Linked DNA regions of Homo sapiens. The protein of the gene in region 1 purifies or fractionates together with the protein of each later gene. This does not show direct contact. Each region holds a gene or a part of one and is shown in the gene's direction. Other genes may lie near its edges.

Region 1 (3,655 bases):
GAATTTAGGTCATAGTGATGTTAATGACACCTGGTGCAAAATAAATATTTAGTAACAGGAACAGATATTGATCTTGATTTTGGAGATTTTAAAATAAAATTCTGCTGGGCGCAGTGGCTCATGTCTGTCATCCCAGCACTTTGAGAGACAGAGGCGGGCAGATCACTTGAGGCCAGGAGTTCAAGACCAGCCTGGCCAACATGGTGAAACCCCATCTCTACTAAAAATACAAAAATTAGCACAGCATGGTGGCACGTGCTTGTGGTCCCAGCCACTTGGGAAGCTGAGGCATGAGAATCACTTGAACCTGAGAGGCGGAGGTTGCAGTGAGCCAAGATTACCACACTGAACTCCAGCCTAGGTGAGACTCCATCTCAAAAAATAAAATAAAATAAAATTCTGAGTTTCATTTTGAGGTGTTATCTTACATTACCCAATAAGCATTCCTGAAAAGTGTATGTTTTATACTCTATCTTTTTTTTTTTTTGGTTCAGGGGGAACTCCCAACAGGATTTCCTGTGGTGGAAAGGAAGCTTGTTGGAAGGTTTTATTATTATTATTATTATTATTATTATTATTATTATTATACTTTAAGTTCTGGGATACATGTGCAGAACGTGCAGGTTTGTTACATAGGTATACATGTGCCATGGTGGTTTGCTGCACCCATCAACCCGTAATCTACATTAGGTATTTCTCCTAATGCTGTCCCTCCCCTAGCCCCCAACCTGCCTCTACTATATCTTGATATGTACTTGATCATCATACCAGCAATACTGTACTTATTTGTTTATTTTTCCCTCCTTTACTCTTAAAGTTGATGGGGATAGGGACTGTGTCTTATTCATGTTTTTATTTCCAGCAGCTAACCAGCACTGGCATATGGTAGACTTTCAGTTGTCACTGTGAGCAGTCATTTAGCTGGTATTTGTTTTATGTTAATGTATAACAGCTTCTAGGACATTAAGGTTCACATCTCTGTTTTCTAGATTATATAGAGATGAAAGTACCATTTTACCCAACAAAGAGATACACGTAACAATTTTAAGTTTGAACATTTTTACAGTTGTATTAAAAATAGAAATAAGATTTTATAAGACTCTCATTTGAAGTTAGCGTTTAGAAAATTTTCAATAGTATGTAGCTTTGTCAGAGAATAGAATATTGAGTTGGCAGGAATCAAATTGTGTTTTGGATTGTTTTGTGATTACAGAAGGTCTGAGTGCTTACAATTTAAAACCCCATGTCCATTGATGACAATAGAATGTAGAATTGGGAGATGATGTAATCCTTTCTATGTTTTGATATTTAACTATATATATGACATTGATATCCAAAAGATATATATGCATTCCGTATTATGGCTATGTATTTAAAGACTGGCATTTCTTTTTATATTCTACACTGAAACAAAATTACCTTGAAACCTTGGAATATAGTGTCTGAAACCTCTAGAAAGTTTTTTTTAATGCTGGTTGTTATTGTTAAGTATTGTTTATTTCTTTAAGTTAAGGATTTGTGTTTAAAATTCTTTTGTTTCTAGTGTTTACGAAAATGGGGTTACAGAAGATGTGAAGATATTTGTTGGATTAAAACCAATAAAAACAATCCTGGGAAGACTAAGACTTTAGATCCAAAGGCTGTCTTTCAGAGAACAAAGGTATTGCCTTTACTGATTTGTTTTTTTTAATTTTTGTGATTTTCTCTCAAGCTTTTCCAAATAACTGTATACTGTTTAATTAACTTCAGTGAAAAGGTCCTTTTCTTAGACTTGTAAAGACAGCATTGAGCATTACAGGAATACATCCAAATTAGTTTTAAAATGTTTTATTCATTATCTTAGATCAACCCCACCATGCTAGAAAGGGGAGTATATATTCCTCCATGTCCTAAATGCCATATTTCTAAGTTAGATAAAGGCTTTTGATCACACTCACCCGCAGAATTTTTCTAGGCTCAGAAAGAAGAGATAGCAAGATCGCAAGACTCGAGTTGGCCAGCTTAGAGACGTATTTCTCTCTTCTTTCCTTCTTTTTCCTTTACAAGAACCCCTGAGAACTTCTGTTTGTTGTGACTCTGCCCTGCTAGTATCAGGCTTTAACAGTTTTTGTTCTTACTTTTTAGGGAGCCTCTGGTGGGAGGGTCTTTCTTATTAAGTCTTTTTTGTACTGGAATCATGCCTAGGTAATGAAGCCTCCGTAAAATCCCAAGATGGGTTGGAGAGCTTCTGGGTTGGTGAACCTGTGGAGTTTCTGGGACGGTGGTCTGCTTGGAGAGGGCACAGCAGCTCCATGCCCCATGCCCCATGCCGCATACTTTTCATTATGTGTCTCTTCCATCTGGCTGTTTTTGAGTTGTATCCTTTTATAATAAATAGGTCATAGTAAGTAAAGAGCTTTCCTGAATTCCTCGAGCTGTTCTAGCAAATGATCTAACCTGAGGAAGAGGTCATGGGAACCTCTGATTTATAGCTGGTTGGTCAGAAGCACAGGTGACAATCTGGACTTGTGATTGGTATCTGAAGGTGGGGCATTCATGTGGTTCTCAGCCCTTGACCTGTGGGGTCTGCACTAACTAGGTAGATAGTGTCAGAATTGAATTGAATTATAGTGTTGATGGAGAAGTGGAGAATTGCTTGGTATGGGAAAAACCCACACATCTGGGATCAGAAGTGAAGTATTCTGAAAATACTGAGTGTTGTGAGTGCGTAGAAGAGTTTGTTTTTCTTATTTACATGGCAGTCTTTCCTCATCCAGAGATCCAGGTTTTCCTGTTGTTTTGTTGCCCATAGAACTGTATCTCACCAGAAATGGTGGCTCACTTCTGTAATCCCAGCACTTTGGGAGGCCGAGGTAGGTAGACCACTTGAGCCCAGGAATTTGAGACCAGCCTGAGCAACATGGCGAGACCCTGTCTTTACAAAAAATTTAAAAATCAGCCAGGTGTGGTGGTGTGTTCCTGTGGTCCCAGCTACTTGGGAGGCTGAGGCGGGGGATTGCTTGAGCCCAGGAGGTCAAGGCTGCAGTGAGCTGAGATCGTGCTACTGTACTCCAGCCTGGGTGACAGAGCGAGACCCAGTCTCAAAAAGAAGAGAAATAACTGTATCCCAAAGATTCCGAGAAATGAGGATTGTTTTAGAATTGAGGACATCAGAAATGTGAAAGGTTTTGGAATGACTGTTGATGAAAACAGATTAATTGGTCTGCTCTTGTTATTTAGGAACACTGCCTCATGGGGATCAAAGGAACTGTGAAGCGTAGCACAGACGGGGACTTCATTCATGCTAATGTTGACATTGACTTAATTATCACAGAAGAACCTGAAATTGGCAATATAGAAAAACCTGTAGAAATTTTTCATATAATTGAGCATTTTTGTCTTGGTAGAAGACGCCTTCATCTATTTGGAAGAGATAGTACAATTCGACCAGGTAGGACCTCAGTTAACAACAACTTTTATGATTCTTTGGGTTATGCATGTCAAGAAATAGGACATGGTGCTGTGTAAAATAAAGTTCTTATGCATTTGATTCCTTTTCTTGCTGTACTTCAAATATGAACAGTTTCAGGTCCACAGCAAAATTGAGAGGAAGGCACAGAGACTTTTCCATATACCTGCTGCCCCCACACATGCATAACCTTTCCAGTTATCAGTA
Region 2 (3,655 bases), on another chromosome or scaffold:
CAGTTGGTCCAGAGACTTCCTCAGAAGTAAGAGTGAAGTAGAAATCTCATCTGGCGAGGATGTAGAATGAGGCCCCCAAATTTCGCTGGTTGATGGAAGAAACAAGAAAATATCAGTGGGTTCAAACTTAAACTCTAGAAGTTGCTTGGGGTCTACTAAGCAAGACAGCCACCTGACCCTGCTCTCCTTATTGGTTTAAAGATGTGGCTTGTAAGCTTTTCAAGTAGATTGTTTTCCCATTGATTGTGTAAGTACAGTAGAGGCATACCAATAAGCTCCTAACAGAGGAAAAACATTCACTTACAGGCTCAGCAACTTCTAAAAGATTTCTTTCAACTTTGAAGTGACCAAGTCTATCACCTTTATTTATTTATTTTTGAGTAGTTGTTGCAGCGGTTTCTTCTTGAAGCTCCAGTTTATATTTTGGAATCTTTCATACAGCACCCCCGCCCACGCTCCCCACTGCCCCCTCCCCCCCACCCTGGCCCCGCTGGCCCTCACCATCTTTTTCTTCTATTCTGCACTTTTTAGTGTAGATTTGACTTACTTATTCCAAGTTTGGTGATCCTTAGTTTGTGATAGCTCTCCTGACTCAGGCCTTCAGGTATGATTTGTTTTGTTCTGGTTTGTTGGCCATCATCTTCCCCTGAAGGTGTGGGGTCCATGGCAGACTAGAGGGAAGGCATAGCTTCATTGCTGGCTCTCTGCTTGTCGAAAGATGATGTGATGCTGAAGTCAAGGCTATAGTCACAGATGTCCTTTTGGTTGCTTCTTGTGCACAGGTGCTAGTATTGTCTCAAGACTATGGCAAACACTTACTTGGTGTGGAAGACCTGTTACAGAAGCACACCCTGGTTGAAGCAGACATTGGCATCCAGGCAGAGCGGGTGAGAGGTGTCAATGCCTCCGCCCAGAAGTTCGCAACAGACGGGGAAGGTAAGGATGGCCCATTCCAAGCATTACCTCCGGGTCACCAGAGATTCATATTTATAGAAACACAGTGGGGCTTTTGAAGTTACTGTGCCACTATACATTCCTGGTGGGTTTGTCATGGGAGCATGAAATACGGTGGAGTGGCCTTCTGAACACTAACTCCATCTTGTTTTTCTGGAATTGATACATCCTTTCCTTAAATACGCAAATGCTGCCTTTGCTTTGAGTGGCTTGGTGTTTGGCAGTGAGACTTTGTCATACCTCAGTCTCTCTGGCCATGCACCGACACCCTGGTGTGGCTGTTCCAGCAGCTCCTGGCTTTCACAGCTGGTTGCATATACCTCTCTTTGGAGGATGTTTAGAATGATTTGGTTATGCTTCGTGTATTTCTAGAAACAATTATATGCAGCTGCCTTTTTCATATGATTCAAGTGCTTTCTTGCAGGAGGATGATCACTTTGTCTGCGGTTTGGCCAAAAAAAAATAATGTTTATCATTGCCCTCACTCCTGTTCTAGTCAAGTTGTTAGAAGGTGCTCCATTGCCTTATCGCATGGCCCTGCATTTACATTTAGCAGTGAGCTGGTAATCATAAGAATATGGGGTGTAGCTTACTGCCTGCCAGTGAGCCTGCACCCATGCTGAGCTCCCTCACACAGCCACGTTCCTTCCTTGATGTTAAACAGGTTACAAGCCCTGTGACCCCCAGGTGATCCGAGACCGCGTGGCCCACATGGAGTTCTGTTATCAAGAGCTTTGCCAGCTGGCGGCTGAGCGCAGGGCCCGTCTGGAAGAGTCCCGCCGCCTCTGGAAGTTCTTCTGGGAGATGGCAGAAGAGGAAGGCTGGATACGGGAGAAGGAGAAGATCCTGTCCTCGGACGATTACGGGAAAGACCTGACCAGCGTCATGCGCCTGCTCAGCAAGCACCGGGCGTTCGAGGACGAGATGAGCGGCCGCAGTGGCCACTTTGAGCAGGCCATCAAGGAAGGCGAAGACATGATCGCGGAGGAGCACTTCGGGTCGGAGAAGATCCGTGAGAGGATCATTTACATCCGGGAGCAGTGGGCCAACCTAGAGCAGCTCTCGGCCATTCGGAAGAAGCGCCTGGAGGAGGCCTCCCTGCTGCACCAGTTCCAGGCAGATGCTGATGACATTGATGCCTGGATGCTGGACATCCTCAAGATTGTCTCCAGCAGCGACGTGGGCCACGATGAGTATTCCACACAGTCTCTGGTCAAGAAACACAAGGACGTGGCGGAAGAGATCGCCAATTACAGGCCCACCCTTGACACGCTGCACGAACAAGCCAGCGCCCTCCCCCAGGAGCATGCCGAGTCTCCAGACGTGAGGGGCAGGCTGTCGGGCATCGAGGAGCGGTATAAGGAGGTGGCAGAGCTGACGCGGCTGCGGAAGCAGGCACTCCAGGACACTCTGGCCCTGTACAAGATGTTCAGCGAGGCTGATGCCTGTGAGCTCTGGATCGACGAGAAGGAGCAGTGGCTCAACAACATGCAGATCCCAGAGAAGCTGGAGGATCTGGAGGTCATCCAGCACAGGTGAGCGGGGCGCTGGTCAGCCACTGGCCTGTTCCTTGTGACCACCAGTGGCCCAGGAGGTGACCACCCTGTCAAATTGCCATTTCAGATTTGAGAGCCTAGAACCAGAAATGAACAACCAGGCTTCCCGGGTTGCAGTGGTGAACCAGATTGCACGCCAGCTGATGCACAGCGGCCACCCAAGTGAGAAGGAAATCAAAGCCCAGCAGGACAAACTCAACACAAGGTGAGCACGTGGCCAGCAGTGTGCCAGCCTCCCACGTGTGGGACTGGGGAGGGTGAGGTCACTCATCGAGCTTTGCTGTTGGGAATTTCCCACATGGGGTCATCGACATTGCAACACTGATGTCATGGCATTGGCACCTGCCTTTTGACATGTCCTTGTTTTGTAAGAAGTGTCTCTCAGGGCAACATCATTGGTTGCAGGAGGATTATCTGAGTCAGCCCAGCATCTGCCCCTCGCCACACCAAAGTTAGGGCCTTGGTTTGACCTGTGTCCAGTGTAGAAGGTATTAAGATGACACCTGTGCTATCCATTTTATAGTAACTTCAGGAACAGGACTCTAGCATGTTTAACACTTAATTTGCCAATGAAAGTCCTGATTGTCAGGGCAGACCTTTGTTCCAGTCTTATCTTTCTGTTGAGTAAACATGTTTGAGTAGGTTATGGCACCTGGCCCCAGTTTTGAAGGTTACCATCAGTCTTAGATTTGGAAAACGTTCATTAGGTAGAGTTCAGAGATGTGTAAAATGTGTCACAGACATGAATTAATTGACTCTGGGAATGGATATCTTGTAATTGCTCACATTGGAGCTCTGTAACACATTCCTCTTCGTGACAGGCTTTTTCCAGATTACATTGCATCCCTGAGCTATTTCCATTATATTTGGTGTTCACAGTTTGAGTGAGATGATTTTCCAAAAAAGCATGTAGTCAAAGCACAGATGGAGAAAACAGATAAGCAGCATTAACCCATCACTGTTCCTTTTGCAATCCAGCCATGGTCAGTCTTCCCTTTTTCACACTCGCTGTCTGCCCCTGCACTCACAGGTGGAGCCAGTTCAGAGAACTGGTTGACAGGAAGAAGGATGCCCTCCTGTCTGCCCTGAGCATCCAGAACTACCACCTCGAGTGCAATGAAACCAAATCCTGGATTCGGGAAAAG

What was found.
Region 2: the proteins of METTL14 (region 1) and SPTBN1 purify together in Homo sapiens (affinity purification with mass spectrometry; 2 studies listed by BioGRID and IntAct, with this or other methods). This does not show direct contact.

Annotation. Positions count from the first base shown.
Region 1 is NC_000004.12:118,702,392-118,706,046, forward strand, and holds part of METTL14 (N(6)-adenosine-methyltransferase non-catalytic subunit METTL14), read left to right. Parts: intron 1-494; coding exon of another isoform or gene 495-544; intron 545-1,543; coding exon 1,544-1,660; intron 1,661-3,219; coding exon 3,220-3,430; intron 3,431-3,655. UniProt on the Homo sapiens protein: The METTL3-METTL14 heterodimer forms a N6-methyltransferase complex that methylates adenosine residues at the N(6) position of some mRNAs and regulates the circadian clock, differentiation of embryonic stem cells and cortical neurogenesis.
Region 2 is NC_000002.12:54,627,315-54,630,969, forward strand, and holds part of SPTBN1 (spectrin beta chain, non-erythrocytic 1), read left to right. Parts: intron 1-782; coding exon 783-936; intron 937-1,618; coding exon 1,619-2,489; intron 2,490-2,577; coding exon 2,578-2,715; intron 2,716-3,540; coding exon 3,541-3,655. UniProt on the Homo sapiens protein: Fodrin, which seems to be involved in secretion, interacts with calmodulin in a calcium-dependent manner and is thus candidate for the calcium-dependent movement of the cytoskeleton at the membrane.